Linked DNA regions of Homo sapiens: region 2 is linked to region 1. A link means that fine-mapping ties the variant in region 1 to the plasma level of a protein whose gene starts in the linked region. Region 1 holds a variant in brackets. A gene starts in the other region. All regions are shown on their reverse strands. Region 1 overlaps MMP14 (matrix metallopeptidase 14). Region 2 holds the start of CD276 (CD276 molecule).

The links. PIP is the posterior inclusion probability: the model's chance that the variant is causal. Protein levels are from antibody-based Olink assays in UK Biobank. Linkage for the fine-mapping came from a reference panel and not from the study's own genotypes, which makes the PIPs less certain.
Region 2: CD276 starts here. The variant in region 1 is fine-mapped to the plasma level of the CD276 protein (UK Biobank, PIP above 0.99).

The regions. Positions count from the first base shown.
Region 1 is chr14:22,842,164-22,845,061 of GRCh38, reverse strand. MMP14 (matrix metallopeptidase 14) reads right to left here. Exons shown (of 10, transcript NM_004995.4): 4 at 2,345-2,652; 5 at 1,644-1,805; 6 at 1,192-1,352; 7 at 553-691; 8 at 282-432. Among named protein-coding and RNA genes, the nearest start is that of MMP14, 7.0 kb to the right of the region's middle. RefSeq lists enhancers at 1,070-1,570, 1,571-2,071. The variant C/T (reference allele first, on the strand shown) is at 1,677.
Region 2 is chr15:73,682,871-73,685,768 of GRCh38, reverse strand. CD276 (CD276 molecule) reads right to left here and starts at 1,386. Exons shown (of 10, transcript NM_001024736.2): 1 at 1,309-1,386. RefSeq lists enhancers at 465-971, 1,989-2,497 and silencers at 956-1,005, 1,166-1,295, 1,306-1,435, 1,556-1,605.

The DNA of each region.
Region 1 (2,898 bases):
GAGCCACCAGTAGCCCTAATGACAGTGCCTGGCTGCTGGGGTGGAGGCGCAGTGCTGGGGGCAGGAGGCGCCAAATGACCAGGTCTGGAATGACCCGGTCACATCCCACTCACACGGTGCCCAAAGGAGGCTGCCCATTTCTAGGCAACAGCAGAGGCTCAGCCAGCTCCTTCTCCAGGGAAGCATGTTGGGGGTAAAGTGGGTCTTTCTCCAGAACTGAGGGAATTTGGGGTGGTGGTGGTTTCTGAGGGAGGCCTGGGGTTAAGGGGTTGAGGTCTTACTTGTTTCCACGGAAGAAGTAGGTCTTTCCATTGGGCATCCAGAAGAGAGCAGCATCAATCTTGTCGGTAGGCAGCCCTCGGCCCAGCTCCTTAATGTGCTTGGGGTAGCCAGGTTCCAGGGACGCCTCATCAAACACCCAATGCTTGTCTCCTGGGGAGGACAGGAGGGCAACGTCTGGGTTCAACTTAGGCTCTAGGGACTTTAGAGGAAATCAGCTCCTCTAGGGAGACCCGCCTCACTCCCAAAGACTAAAGTGGAGTGCCTGGTTACCTTTGAAGAAGACGAATTTGCCATCCTTCCTCTCGTAGGCAGTGTTGATGGACGCAGGCAGGCCCCGCCAGAACTGGCCAATGGGCATTGGGTATCCATCCATCACTTGGTTATTCCTCACCCGCCAGAACCAGCGCTCCTGGAAGCCGGTCAATGCAGGAAAAGTCCATTATGTCTTGCGGCCTAGGTCTCTGGTTCAGTCCCCAAAGCTCCCGCACTGCTGTTTGTTCCTCAGTTTTAGTTTTTAGTCCAGCTGTTGTCACTTCCACCCAGCCGCCCTACCACAGAGTACCCCCCCGCCTTTTTTTTTTTTGAGATGGAGTCTCACACTGTTGTCCAGGCTGGAGTGCAATGGCCCTATCTCGGCTCACTGCAACCTCCACCTCCCAGGTTCACGTGATTCTCCTGCCTCAGCCTCCCAGGTAGCTGGGATCATAGGCGCCCACCACCACACTTGGCTAATTTTTTGTATTTTTAGTAGAGACGGGGTTTCACTATGTTGGCCAGCCTGCTCTCGAACTCCAGACCTCAGGTGATCCACCTGCCTTGGCCTCTCAAAGTGCTAGGATTACAGGCATGAGCCACCATGCCCAGCCCATAGGGCCCTTTTGTCTTTCAAACCAGCCCACTTCTTCTCACCTTGAAGACAAACATCTCCCCTCGGAGCATGGCCACGGTGTCAAAGTTCCCGTCACAGATGTTGGGCCCATAGGTGGGGTTTTTGGGTTTATCAGGAACAGAAGGCCGGGAGGTAGTCCTGGGTTGAGGGGGCATCTTGGTGGGGAACCCTGACTCACCCCCTGGGGCAGAAAACACGAGGGGCATTTCAGACTTAGGAGGAGGCGGGGACGGAAGGACAGACAGATGGGCAGACAATACCCTTGGAAAGGTGTGGATGGGCTTCTAGGGGAGGCTGAAGCAACCAACTGGGAGGCGACACAAAAGATGGGCTCAAAAGTGGAGCTGATAGAGGCAGGGGCAGGTTGGCAGGGGGCGGTGCGGAGACTGCAAGGCATAAAAGAGGGGAAATGCGTAGACCAGGAGGGAACAAGCAGCAGAGGAGGGAGCAGGCGTGGGTGTAGACTACTCGCCATAAAGTTGCTGGATGCCCCGGCGGTCATCAT[C/T]GGGCAGCACAAAATTCTCCGTGTCCATCCACTGGTAAAAGGGTGCCATGATGGCCGAGGGGTCACTGGAATGCTCGAGCCCCAGGGCATGGCCCAGCTCGTGCACAGCCACCAGGAAGATGTCATTTCCTGGAAGGATGGGGACAGTGACGATAGCAGCCTGAGTCCCTTCCCTCAGCCTCCCTGCTTCCCCACCAGCAGCTTTGGTTTCACCTCCAAGCCTGCTGCCCATGTTTTCAATCCAAAGTGGCCAAATTCTGAGGTCTAGCTTTTTATCTGGTATTTAAGCACAAAGCCAGTCAGCAAGCTCCTCTGGGTGGAGGTGAGAGAGTGCTTGGAAGCAGGACCCCGATCCCGGGAAGACCTGTGGTAAGGGAAGCCAAGGCTCTCTCTAGTCCCCAGTTTCTCCCGGGAGCGAGACATGACATCGGTCTGGAAAAGTGGGCAATAAGGATGCTTTGAAGTCTTTGACTGGAAAGCCAGTCAGTGGGTGAGAGGGGGGACCAGATGTAAATAGCTCAAACAGGACTCCTGCTTTTGTCAGAAGTTAGATCAGAAGGTCTCTGTGGTCCCTTCTAGCCCGGAGATTTTGGAAGGAGGGAGGGGAACCACCCCTACAAATGACTGTTGGCTTTTTCCAGAGTAAGTCCCAGGGATACTTGGCTCACCATTCAGATCCTCATTCCTGACAGTCCAAGGCTCGGCAGAGTCAAAGTGGGTGTCTCCTCCAATGTTGGGGCCTGGGAAGTAGGCATGGGCCAGGAAGCCGCCCTCACCATCGAAGGGCGTGCTGTCGCCATGGAAGCCCTCGGCAAAGAAGATCATGATGTCGGCCTGCTTCTCATGGCCCTCACGGATGTAGGCATAGGGCACCTCGCGGAAGCGCAGTGGTGTGGCACTCTCCCACACGCGGAACGCCTTGCGAATGGCCTCGTATGTGGCATACTCGCCCACCTTGGGGGTGTAATTCTGGATGCTGAGGTCCAGCCACGTGGGGAGAGGATGGGGTGTGTTAGGATAAAGAGGGGCAACATTCTCCTTCCCTGCACTCTCCCAGGTCTGACTGCGCGGCCCAGCCACCTCTGCCTGACCCAGCTCTTCCTGCTACCTCATGCGCAACGCCTCTGTCTCAAGAACAAGGGATCCTCAGGCTCTGGCTCTCTGGCACTGGGGTGCACCCTTGATGGCTACACCTCTCTCAAGGATGAGAGCCATTTTCCTC
Region 2 (2,898 bases), not on the chromosome of region 1:
CCCACACTACAAGGAAGGCTGCACAGCATCAGATTTCCTAGGGACTTCTGGGAGGCCAGAGGGAACTAGAGGAGGCCGCACTAAATAAAGAACTCTCTTAAAGACAAAGCAGCTTCATTACTTTCTAATATAGAAACTAACTGCTGAAGACATGCTTATAAGAAAAGGACCCCGGGCTTTAATGAAGAGATCAGACTCATTTACAATTATCCACATCCAATTTGAAGGTAAATCGTTTTTCTAAATTAAGACAACTAACACCCCCCCACCCGCCACACACACACACACACACACACACACACACACACACACACAAATCTTTTTTGCTTTACTATTTGCTTAATGTTTTCCCTCAGTGATAGATCCCATATCTGAGTCATCTATCACGCTTTTCTCATTAGAGCAGGTTTGGCTTAGAAATAAATCCCCTGCCTTAGGCTGCCAAACCTGCCAATTCGCTAGCTAAACGGTCGCAGGGAGGGCCCTGGGCGCTGGAATTCAATCCCCTCCCTTCTAGTGTGCCCCCACTCGGGGTCCCCACCTCCCTCCACCGTCGCCCGCATCTCCTCTCCATCCCACCTCACCCCCCACCTCCCTGAGGCTTCCCAAGCCCAAACTGCCCATCCCAATTCCCTCCCCACCCCCAACACCTATTCACCCCGTGGCCCCTGCCAGCCGTCTCTACCTGTCCTTCCCGGAATCTGACCCCTCATGCTGCCCACGGCTGCCTGTGGAAGTGCACCAGTCGCCCACACCTTCGCCCTGCTGGGCCCTGCAGAGTGGACACGCCTAACCACTCGCCTTCCCTCCCCGCCGCTCCCCTCCCGGAGCTGGGCGTTTTCCTCTGCAGGACCCGAGACCCCGCTAACCTCCCAGCGCCGGCCGGTGGCTTCGTTAAGCTTCAACACGGGACAGATCTGCCCCCATGCCCGCTCCAGACCCGGGGCCTGCAAAAGCGCATTCACCCACCCGGCCCGGTCCGCAGCTTCCGGGGTCTGCAGGTCCGACGGCGCCCGGGCCCCTCTCAACCCGAGGAAAGGGGGGCGGGGTAGGATCCGGGAGCCCCCAGCTCTCCGCGGGCCCCACAGCCCAGGGCAGGAGGGGCGCCCGCGGTTCCCGGGACTCCTGTGCGAGGGGGGCCGCCCGGACCTGGGGGAGGGCAGGGGAGCAGGAGCCCGGAGGGAAGGCGCCCTGCTCAGCTCCTGCAGCCCTGAGCGGGAACGTGCGGACCTCCGCGGGATCCAGGCCCGGCCCGCAGCAGACAAAGGCCGCCCCACCCCGCGCCGCCCGCGCCACGCCAGCACTCACCGCGCCGCGCCGACTCTGGGACTCAGGGACGCGGCCCAGCCTGGCTCAGTCGCCGCCGCAGCGAGGCCCGGCCCGAATGGGGGCCGGGGGCGGCCCGGGGAGTCCGAGGGGCGGGGCGGGCCGCGCCGGAGAATCCGCCTGAGGCCCGGAAAGGCGGCTCCGGTGCGTCCCTGAGGCCGGATTGGCCCCGCGGTGGCGGCTGCTGACCGAGGCCTGAGCCAGCCCGCTGGGCAGAGCACACGGCCTGGCCCCCGCCCCCGCCCCGCCCCGCCCCCAGGCCTGACCCTGGCGGGGAAAACCCTCGGCTCCCGGAGCAGGGCGCTGCCCATCCCCCACCCCGTTCCCACACTTCCAAGAGCCGAATCTTCCTTTCTGCGAGAGGGGATAGGTGACTGACTGGTCATCGACTGGCGGCAGAACAGGGCTGGAATCCTGCTGTCCAACCCCAGTCTTGGGTTCTTCCTCCACACCATGCTGGCACCACAGCCCAGAAAGGGTTAACTCGACTGCGAGGAATTAAGAGCTGCAAGGAGCTCTCTATAAATACAGTGTCGTGGGCGCCTGAGCCAACCGCAGGACAATTTCCACTGAGCTGGTTTTCCTCTTTTCCTTCCACCCACGGCCATCCGACCAGCCCTGCCCCCAGCCCCACCCCAGACTGCTGGCCGGACTTGGCTCCAACAGGCCTGACACCTAGTGGCCTTGGGCTCTGTCCTTACAGGGCCCCGCTCCAGCCTGGGAGGAGATGGGGGTCGGGCCTGTCCAGATTTTGCTGTGGTGCAGCCCATCCCTGCACCTGTTCTTGGATCTGTTCTTCCTCACAGGGACAGTGACAGCTAAAACGTAGGGAGACTTTTGTGGGCCAGAGTTAGGTTAGGAGCTTTCCATGCTGGGCCTCTTTAGTTCCTCCAAACAGCCCCGCCGGCTAGATATTATTATTCCCATTTCACAGATGAGAAAACCAAGGCTCAAAGGGATGAAGGGACTCCAACCTTGTACTGCTGCCAGGCTCACCACCAGTGCCAGTGGCAGTACTGGGCAGGGCTTGGGAAATGAGTATGAAAACATGTGCGTCTCTCTGCATGTGTTGCCACTGTTGTAAGCTCTTTACCATTTTATCTCATTTAATCTTCACAACAACTCATTGAGGTGAATACCATTATTCTCATTTTTACAGATCGGAAATAAGGAAATTAAGATACAAAGAGATTAAGTAACTTGGGGACACATAGCTATGAAGGGAGGAACCGGGATTTGCCCTCTGAATTTAAGTGTGCGTGTGGTGTATGGGTAGGGGTGGTGGTGCATGGGTGTGTATATTTGTGGGGGGTTTTTGTCTTTTTTTTTTTTTTGAGACAGAGTCTGGCTCTGGAGTGCAGTGGCTCAATCTCGGCTCACTGCAACCTCCGCCTCCTGAGTTCAAGCGATTCTCCTGCCTCAGCCTCCAGAGTAGCTGGGATTACAGGTGCGCACCACTATTTTGGCCAGGATGGTCTCGATCTCTTGACCTTGTGATCCACCCGCCTTGGCCTCCAAAAGGGCTGGGATTACAAACGTGAGCCACCGCGCCCGGCCGGGTGTGTATATTTG